Linked DNA regions of Homo sapiens: region 1 is reported to be linked to region 2. The links are microRNA targets in miRTarBase. Many come from high-throughput screens and were not tested one by one. Region 2 holds a microRNA gene; the other region holds the end of a gene's coding sequence.

The links. The annotated mature microRNA hsa-miR-5011-3p reads GUGCAUGGCUGUAUAUAUAACA and lies in region 2 at 1,228-1,249, opposite strand. An mRNA with a match to its seed (bases 2 to 7 or 8) in the 3' UTR can be bound and repressed. Matches are read on the target gene's strand: a 7mer-m8 pairs with bases 2 to 8, a 7mer-A1 pairs with bases 2 to 7 and ends in A, and an 8mer does both.
Region 1: the mRNA of ZFP82 is a reported target of hsa-miR-5011-3p. Seed matches in the 3' UTR shown: 7mer-A1 at 567-573.

Annotation. Positions count from the first base shown.
Region 1 is chr19:36,388,830-36,393,237 of GRCh38, reverse strand. It overlaps ZFP82 (ZFP82 zinc finger protein), which reads left to right. Exons shown (of 5, transcript NM_133466.4): 5 at 1-4,408. The coding sequence ends at 497. Among named protein-coding and RNA genes, the nearest start is that of ZFP14, 12 kb to the right of the region's middle.
Region 2 is chr18:67,078,486-67,082,893 of GRCh38, reverse strand. MIR5011 (microRNA 5011) reads right to left here and starts at 1,310; the gene lies at 1,208-1,310.

The sequences.
Region 1 (4,408 bases), not on the chromosome of region 2:
GTAAGGAATGTGGAAAGACCTTTAGCCGTGGTTATCATCTTATTCTCCATCACAGAATTCATACTGGTGAAAAACCTTACGAATGTAAGGAATGCTGGAAAGCCTTTAGTCGCTACTCACAACTTATTTCACATCAGAGTATTCATATTGGTGTTAAGCCCTATGACTGTAAGGAATGCGGGAAGGCCTTCAGACTACTTTCACAACTCACACAGCATCAGAGTATTCATATTGGTGAGAAACCTTATAAATGTAAGGAATGTGGCAAGGCCTTTAGATTGCGCCAAAAACTTACTCTACATCAGAGCATTCATACTGGCGAAAAACCCTTTGAGTGTAAGGAATGTAGGAAGGCCTTTAGACTTAATTCATCCCTTATTCAACATCTGAGAATTCATTCTGGTGAGAAACCCTATGAATGTAAGGAATGTAAGAAGGCCTTTAGGCAACATTCACACCTTACTCATCATCTGAAAATTCATAATGTAAAAATCTAAGAAAGTCTTTTCAACTTCTGTGTTATAGAACATTCTATGAATGTAGTAATTAATCTATTTTGCTCCATACATGCAACTGCGTTGGCATTAGAGGTTTTATACCATTAAAAGAGTGTGACAATGTATTGTAGTCCATCATCACTCAAACCTGAAACTTCAGCATATTTGTTCTAAAAACTAATCCTGTTATAAGAATGAAAAAGACATTTACCGTCATCCCTATCCCATCACTTTGTGTCATACTGGACAAGACGCTTAACTGCTCTGTGCTATAATTTTTTAATTTATGACATGGTCATATAAGAGTGCAGCAGTTTGACACACTTTCAATCAAGAGGTGGAATCTACATCCCTCTGTTGTATACAGGAATCTACATCCCTCTGTGACTGCTTCGCCCAGTAGAATATGGTAGACGTACTGCTGTGCTGGTTTCTTGACTCAGACTTTACTGGTAGGGTTACTTCATCTCATGAAATGACAGAACTGTCTTGTTACAAAGTCTGGCTACTTTGCTGAAGAGACCACATGAAGAGGCCCTGAAACTACGTAGAGAGGGAGAGGCACCTGCTGAACCCTGTCTTCTTGACATCCACCAAGATACCAGACATTTGAGTGAAATTTTGGATCCACCAGACCAGCCACCAGCTAAATGCCAGTGAGCGACTTGGTAACCTGAACTGATGCCATGTAGAATGGAAGAATTGACCAGCTGAGCCCCTGGCCCAAATTTCTGACCCACAAAAACATGAGATATAATAAAATGGTTGTTGTTTTAAGCCACTAAACTTTCTTTTATTATCATACTAAATATTTATTTTTACATAATTCATACTAAAGGCTGTGGGCATAATGAGTATAGAAATGCCTTCCACCAACATTTAATCTTCATTGAACTTGAGATATCTTATTCTCGTTAAAATATTGAAAGTAAGGAATTCCTTTCCAGTTTGTTCATTAAAAAACAGATACCCTAGACCAGGTGAGGTGGCCCATGCCTGTAAATCCAGCACTTTGGGAGGCCAAGTAAGGACGATTGCTTGAGGCCAGAAGTTCGAGACCAGCCTGGGCAACATGGTGAGACCCTGTCTCTACCAAAAAACTTTAAAAATTAGCTGGGCATAATGGTGCATGCCTGTAGTCCTAGCTACTCGAGGCTGAGGTGGGAGGATCATTTGAACCCAAGAGTTGAGGCTTCAGTGAGCTGTGATTGTACCACTGCACTCCAGCTTGAGTGACTGCAAGACCCTGTCTCAAAAAAAAAAAAAAACTACAATCAGTATTCTCTGGCCCCAGTCAATATTAAAAATTGACAAAGGATAACATGAAACTTTGGAAATTAAAAGTCACCTGTATTATGAAGCCCCATTAATTTTTTAAACTACTTCATTGTTTTTTAAAAATGCTAAATTGTCAATTTAGCATTTTGAGGCAATCCCCTCAAATTGGCTCCTGTGTCCTTTTATCATGACCACTCCAACCTTTGAGCTTTTTTTTTTCCTGAACCAAATGCATTGATTAGTTATGGAGCATACTAGAGCATTATTAACAAATAAAGGAAAAGAATGGAATATTTACCTTGCCTATCCTTTACAAACTATATTTCAAGACAACCAAAAGTTGGTGAAGGAAAGTTGTTGATTAGAGAATTCCAACTGGTTAAAAGGTCAAAGGAGGCCAGGCGCGGTGGCTCAAGCCTGTAATCCCAGCACTTTGGGAGGCCGAGGCAGGTGGATCGTGAGGTCAGGAGATCAAGACCATCCTGGCTAACACGGTGAAACCCCATCTCTACTAAAAATACAAAAAATTCGCCGGGCGTGGTGGCAGGCGCCTGTAGTCCCAGCTACTCAGGAGGCTGAGGCAGGAGAATGGCTTGAACCCGGGAGGCGGAGCTTGCAGTGAGCCGAGATCGCGCCACTGCACTCCAGCCTGGGTGACAGACCGAGACTCTGTCTCAAACAAAAAACAAAAAACAAAACAAAACAAAGATCAAATGAATGATAGAATTTGAAAACTACGCTCTTTAATTTTACAAAATCATGGATTTTCGTGGTGATAGCAATGGATGCGAAGACCATTAGGTGAAAAATGGATAGGAAGCTTATAATGCATGGAGCAGAATGACAGGACACTAATCTATATTAACATCTCTAAATGAGATCAGCCAGATGAACTTGATGTGATGAAATGGATACACACAGTGGACACCTGTGAAGTTTTCTTGGCTCCCCCAAAACTGAGAAGTACAAGTTAGTCTCCAAACCTAATTACCAGTTTACAGGAAACATGGGGAATAAAAGAACAAATTAACAACACAAAGAAGCAAACAACCAAATGCACAATTTGGGAAATTCTGCAGAAGTAATGGCCTAGTTTTTTAACCAATACATGTCAAAAAAAAAAAAAAAAAAGACAAAAATGGAATCCTACACTTTAAAGGAGACTAAGAAACGTATCCTTCAAATACAGTGTATGGAGCATTTTAGGATCCTTGTGTTAAAATGCGCTTGGGATTTGTTTTAATCAATCATGGTGAGACAGGCAGACATGGAAATTATTGTCATGAAGGAAGAAGTTTATACGCAGATCCCACAAACGGGAGGCATGGCATGGCATGCAGGGTCACGTAAAGAAGCACCTGGGTGTATCAGGAGGCAGAGGGTGAGAGCACAGCATGGCCCAGAGCTTTTATTGGGGGTTTTCATGGGAAGGAATGGACAAGGCAGGGGTAGGCACACTGGTAAGCTTAGGATTGAATAGTTTGAGTAATTTTGTTGGTCTCTGGGATCTAGGGGGGATTCGTAATTGTCTAGTTAGGGCAGGGGAATATTGAATTGGTGTATGAGAGTTTGGTAAAGGAGATAGTTGGGAGTATGGGCTCTGGATTGGTTGGTTTGTATATGAAAGGCATGCTTGCAGTGGAGTTTATCATCTATGCATTAGCTTGCCCTGGGAGGGGCAGCCTATCCAGGATCAAGGCCCCAAGTGGCCAGAGCATCAGGAATACAGAAAATAAAGAAAACATAGTCAATACAAGATTTGAAGGAATAAAATGTCTCTACATATTGTACAAATGTAAACATGGATTGGTTACTAAATGATACGAAATAATTTATTGTTCATATGTTAGGCATGACTATGGCATTATGGGTATATGTGTATGAGTCCTTAAGTGTTAGAGATTCATACTGAGGTATTTAAGGCTGAAATGTTATGCCTGTGATTTACTTTTAAATACTTAAAAACAAAAGGTGGGAGGGATAGATGAAACAAGATTAGCAAAATGTTGGTAAATGTTTAATCTGGATCATTAGGTACACAGGGTTCATTGTGCCGTTCTTACTATCTTTACATATATTTTAAATTTTCCATAATAAAGTTTTTTAAAGTAGAAAATCAAGTTTGGGCCAGGCGTGGTGGCTCATGCCTGTAATCGCAGTACTTTGGGAGGCCAAGGTGGGTGGATCATTTGAGGCCAGGAGATCAAGACCATCCTGGCCAACATGGTGAAACTCTGTCTCTACTAAAAATACAAAAATTAGCTGGACATGGTGGCACGCCTGTAGTCCCAGCTACTCGGGAGGCTGAGGCAGGAAAATCGCTTGAACCCAGGAGGCGGAGGTTGCAGTGAGCTGAGATCACACCACTGCACTCCAGCCTGGCAATAGAGTGAGACTCCATCTCAAAAAAAAAAAAAAAGAAAGAAAATCAAGTCTGAAATTGTAGACTATTTAGTGATGAATGATCACATGTTGCCTACAGATAACTTGGGGGAAATCACCAACCAAAGCTCTACTTGGTAGAAAATTTAAAGCAATGCATTTAGAACATCTGGATTGAGAAATAAGTATTTGTGTTGTTCACCATTCTGTTCACACACCTACAGTGCCTGTCACATAACAGGCAATTTATG
Region 2 (4,408 bases):
TAAATGTTTGAGGTGATGTTTATCCTAATTACTCTGATTTGATCATTACACTTCATATACATTTATCAAAATATCACTCTGCAGATTATAAATACATACAATTAATATGTGTAAACTAAAATGCAAAGGAAGAAAAACCCAACAAAGCAATTTCTCCACACGTTACCTAATCCACAACAAATGGCTTCTGAAGTTTACCTCAAGTAAAGGCCATAAATATGACTCTTTAAGGTAGAAATCTTAGAAGTAAGAGTTACTTAGCTTAATGCCCTCTAGGTTTATCCATATGTATTTCATTGTAGTGTTAGTAGCAATAAAGTATAGAAACGACCTAATTGCTCATTGAATGGTGACTGATAGTGTTACATATACAGCCATGCACTGTGTATTGCATCAGTCAACAAAAAACCACATATATAAATGTGGTCCAATAAGATTACGATACTGTGTTTTTAGTGTAATTTTTCTTTGTTTTGGTATGTTTAGATGTACGGATGCTATTGTGTTACAATTGCCTATAGCATTCAGTATAATAATAAGCTATACAGAGTTGTAGCCTAGGAGATACAGTCTATGTCATATTGTCTAAGTGTGTAGTACGTTACACTGCTGTGGGACAGGCAAGGCCCCAAACTGGGGCTTAGCCAGGGAGGATTTCTTGCTTAACCCCGGAAAAAATTCAAGGATGAGCTAGGAGTCTTAGCAATCGTTTATTGAATGGTACTGCTCCTTGCAGAGCAGGGCTAAATCATAGGCAGTGCAATCAGAGTCAGCAACATATGGTCTCTTGGCAACGGTATTTATACTCAGCGAGACCCACATTCAATTGCATGCAAATTGAGGGGTGAGCCAATGCAAATTGAGGGGCAGGTTGTTTAGAACTTTCTAAGGCAGGTCAAATGCATGCAAATTGAGGGGTGAGCCAATGCAAATTGAGGGGCAGGTTGTTTAGAACTTTCTAAGGCAGGGGCAGTAACTTTTAGGTTGTTGCCATGGAAAGAGGTGGTAACTTCTGGGTTGTGTTGCCAGGCTGCTCATATTGCTCATTAGCATAAGACACTACCACCAGCACCATGACAATTAAATTGCAATGAGTAGTTAGAGATTGCTTTTGTTGACATCTGCCACTTCCTATCAGTTTCTTCACTTCATGCTCTCTGGCCAGATCCTGTTTTGGTTAGCAGGGTTGTGACCAAAAAAAAGTCCTGCTGAAAGATGAATGGATAGTGTTATATATACAGCCATGCACTGTGTACCCAAACTACAGAGTGCATGGCTGTATATATAACAGCATCCACTCAATACCATCTAGGTTTGGATAAGGACACTCCATGATGTTCAAACAATGATAAAATTGCCTTAAGGTACATTTCCCTGTTAAGCAATGCATGACTGTGTGTGTGTATATATGTATATGACCATGAAATATTATTCAGCCTTAAAATAGAAGGGGATTCTGCCATATGAGGCAACATGAAAGAAATAAGTTCTATTGTTGGGGGTGAATAGCCATGAGAGTGGAGAAGGCCATCAGTTAATCCATGGTTTGTGGCATTGGCCAAGCATGACAAGCAGTGAAACCATATTCAAATATGGAATCAACTTTTCTGACGATGACAACAAACAACTGTTGGCTTTACTATACAAGTCAGAGGCAATTGTAAGGCTCTTTGTTGTTTAATGCCCCACAGGTAAAACTTTTCTGTCCAGGGAATATTCTAGAGCAATACTGTGCAAGAGACCATTGTGTGATAACACGTGTTCTACCCTTGCATAGTCCAATATAGTAGCCTGTAGCCACATGTGCCTTTGAGTATTTCAAATACAGCTAACACAATGGAGGGACTGACTTTTTAATTATTTTAATGTTTAGTTAATTAAACATTAAAATTAACTTTAAATAGCCAAGTGTAGCTCCAAGAAACATCTGGAGCTACCAGGAACTGGAAGAGATAAGAAAGAATTGTCTCCTAGAATCCTGGATTAAATGCAATCCTGCCGACACCCGAGTTTGAACTGGCTTCTAGAACTGGGGGAGAATACATTTCTGTTCTTTTAGCCATTTGTTTTATGCTAATCTGTTATGGCAGCCTGAGGAAACTAAAACAGATGGCTTCGGGGAGAAATTTGAAACAGAAGCAAGAAGTAAAAACAGTAAGAAACAAACAAGTATGTATTCATCACAGAGGTACAGAAATTAACCATCAAATATCCCAGGCCCTAGGGGAGGAAGTGCCACGGTGGCAGCAGCGCTATCTCATCAGACTGTTCCTGTGGGGGGATTTTACTGCCATTCTGGAACCTGGTTTCCATGGGGCTGCCCTGTTCTGAGCCTGTTTCTTTAGCCTTCCAATAATTATATGATTTATCCAATATAATCTATTACCTGGTTTAGGTCAATTGGAATGGATTTCAGTCATCTACAACCAAGAACACTGACAGGTATACTAACACCTGTCAGATAGTATTGTGAATTGTGGGGAAAGTGTTCCTAAACATGACAAAACACAAGAAAGCATTAAAAAATGGTGACAGATATGAGTATTTATGAGTTAGTTAATAAACATATATGACAATTTATATGGAAAACAAAGTATGTGATGCATGATGGATTAGGAAAACATACAATATATGTAACGAAATGATATACAATGTCAATATTTATTTTTAAGAAGCAATACTAAATTACAAAATAAAATATATACAATTCTATAGGAATAGAATGCAAATTACCAATACATACATGAAAATTAGAAAACTTTTGCAATTAGAAAAATATAAATCAAAACAATAGTGTTATACTACTTTTTTCTGAAATTAAATTGCAAAATTAATATATCCAAAGATACTCAACATGATCCATATTAGACATGGATGTGTGAAGAAGGCACTCCAATCTAGGTTTTTAAGGATATAAATTTGTAAAGCCGTGTCTCAAGAATGTGTGACAATAATTCATGAGTGGCAATTTAGTATACGTTAAGCTTTGATCCAGGTAATTTAATTAAGATCTATCTACAAAGATAAACACACTTGCACACAAGTTTCTAAGGGTCAGATGGCTTACTGTACAATTTTCAGGATGTTATTGTATCATTGGTCACATCTTAATTTCTTAATTGTCCATGCCCATGGTTTTATCAGAGAAAATGAGCTAAGAACCCCAGAGACAATGGAGAGTTTGCAATGTAGTTTTTCTTTAATTTTTCATTTTAAGTTCAAGACGTCCGAAGGTGTATCTACTGGCTAGAAAAAATTGATATGTTTCCAATTACATTTCTATACATACATGGATGTGTTTGTGTGTATAGCTTTTTTGTCACAAAACCTGAGGACATACAGATAATAAATGCCTGAGAAGTATGTTGCTCTTCTTAAAATAAAACACATGATGAGTTTCCCTTTTGTTTGAGGAAAGCAGAACAGTGCTTTGCTTCGCATTGAGAATTTATGATTGCCATAAGAAAGCAGTGGTGAGCAGATAAAAGCTGTCACAAAAGAAATTTAAATTGAGCTGAAATTTTTTTTTTTGGCAACAGCTAAATTTTAAAGTTATAAGCAGAGTAACCTTGGGAAATGCCATATATATTAGTATTCTTATTTAACAATGATTGTAATTAAAAGAGCTCATTGCATTAGAAAAGAAAAATCATGCTTAAGACTCTGAAAGTTTAGAATTCCAATAAGGTAAAATAAATGTTACTTCATATTAATGTGGATACTTCATAAATTTTAAAAGTATTTCTGTCTCATCAACTAGAACTCAAAACTTATAGGGCTAAGTACACATTTTTAATTATTTTCTAGTCTAATATTTGAAAATCCACTTTCATTTAAATGATTTCATGAGCTTAATTACCCTAATATACATGGTAGAGTTACGTACATTATCCAGTTTATAGAATAGAAATAAATAAATATATGTTTATTTATTTGTACTGCTTCTGCTTTCATAAATGTAGATGTTTTTTCCTTTTCTTTTGGATAATCATAGCTCTGGTAATATACAGGTGATGTAATATATTTCTTTTTATCATATGCCTTTTTAATTTTCCAAATTAATGAACTAGGTCTAGGATTTCCTTCTACTCTTTATGCTTCTTGCATGATACCTGGCTTATGTTCTCTATTGTTCCACAATCATCGGCATCTATGTTCAACTATGCAATGATTTGTCATCATCCTTGATCTGAAATGATGGGGTATATTAAATTTAATATTTGATAACTGAAGAACATATAGTGAATATCTTTTAGTATTTTAATGAATTATGATCTTTAAAGTATTAATGTATTCTCATTATCTTATTTTTGCATAATCCATAACAACATAGAAAAAAATATCTAACAATTACCCACCATTACCCCATTTTCAAAGTGTGTTCTTCATTTCATGGTAATAACTTGTC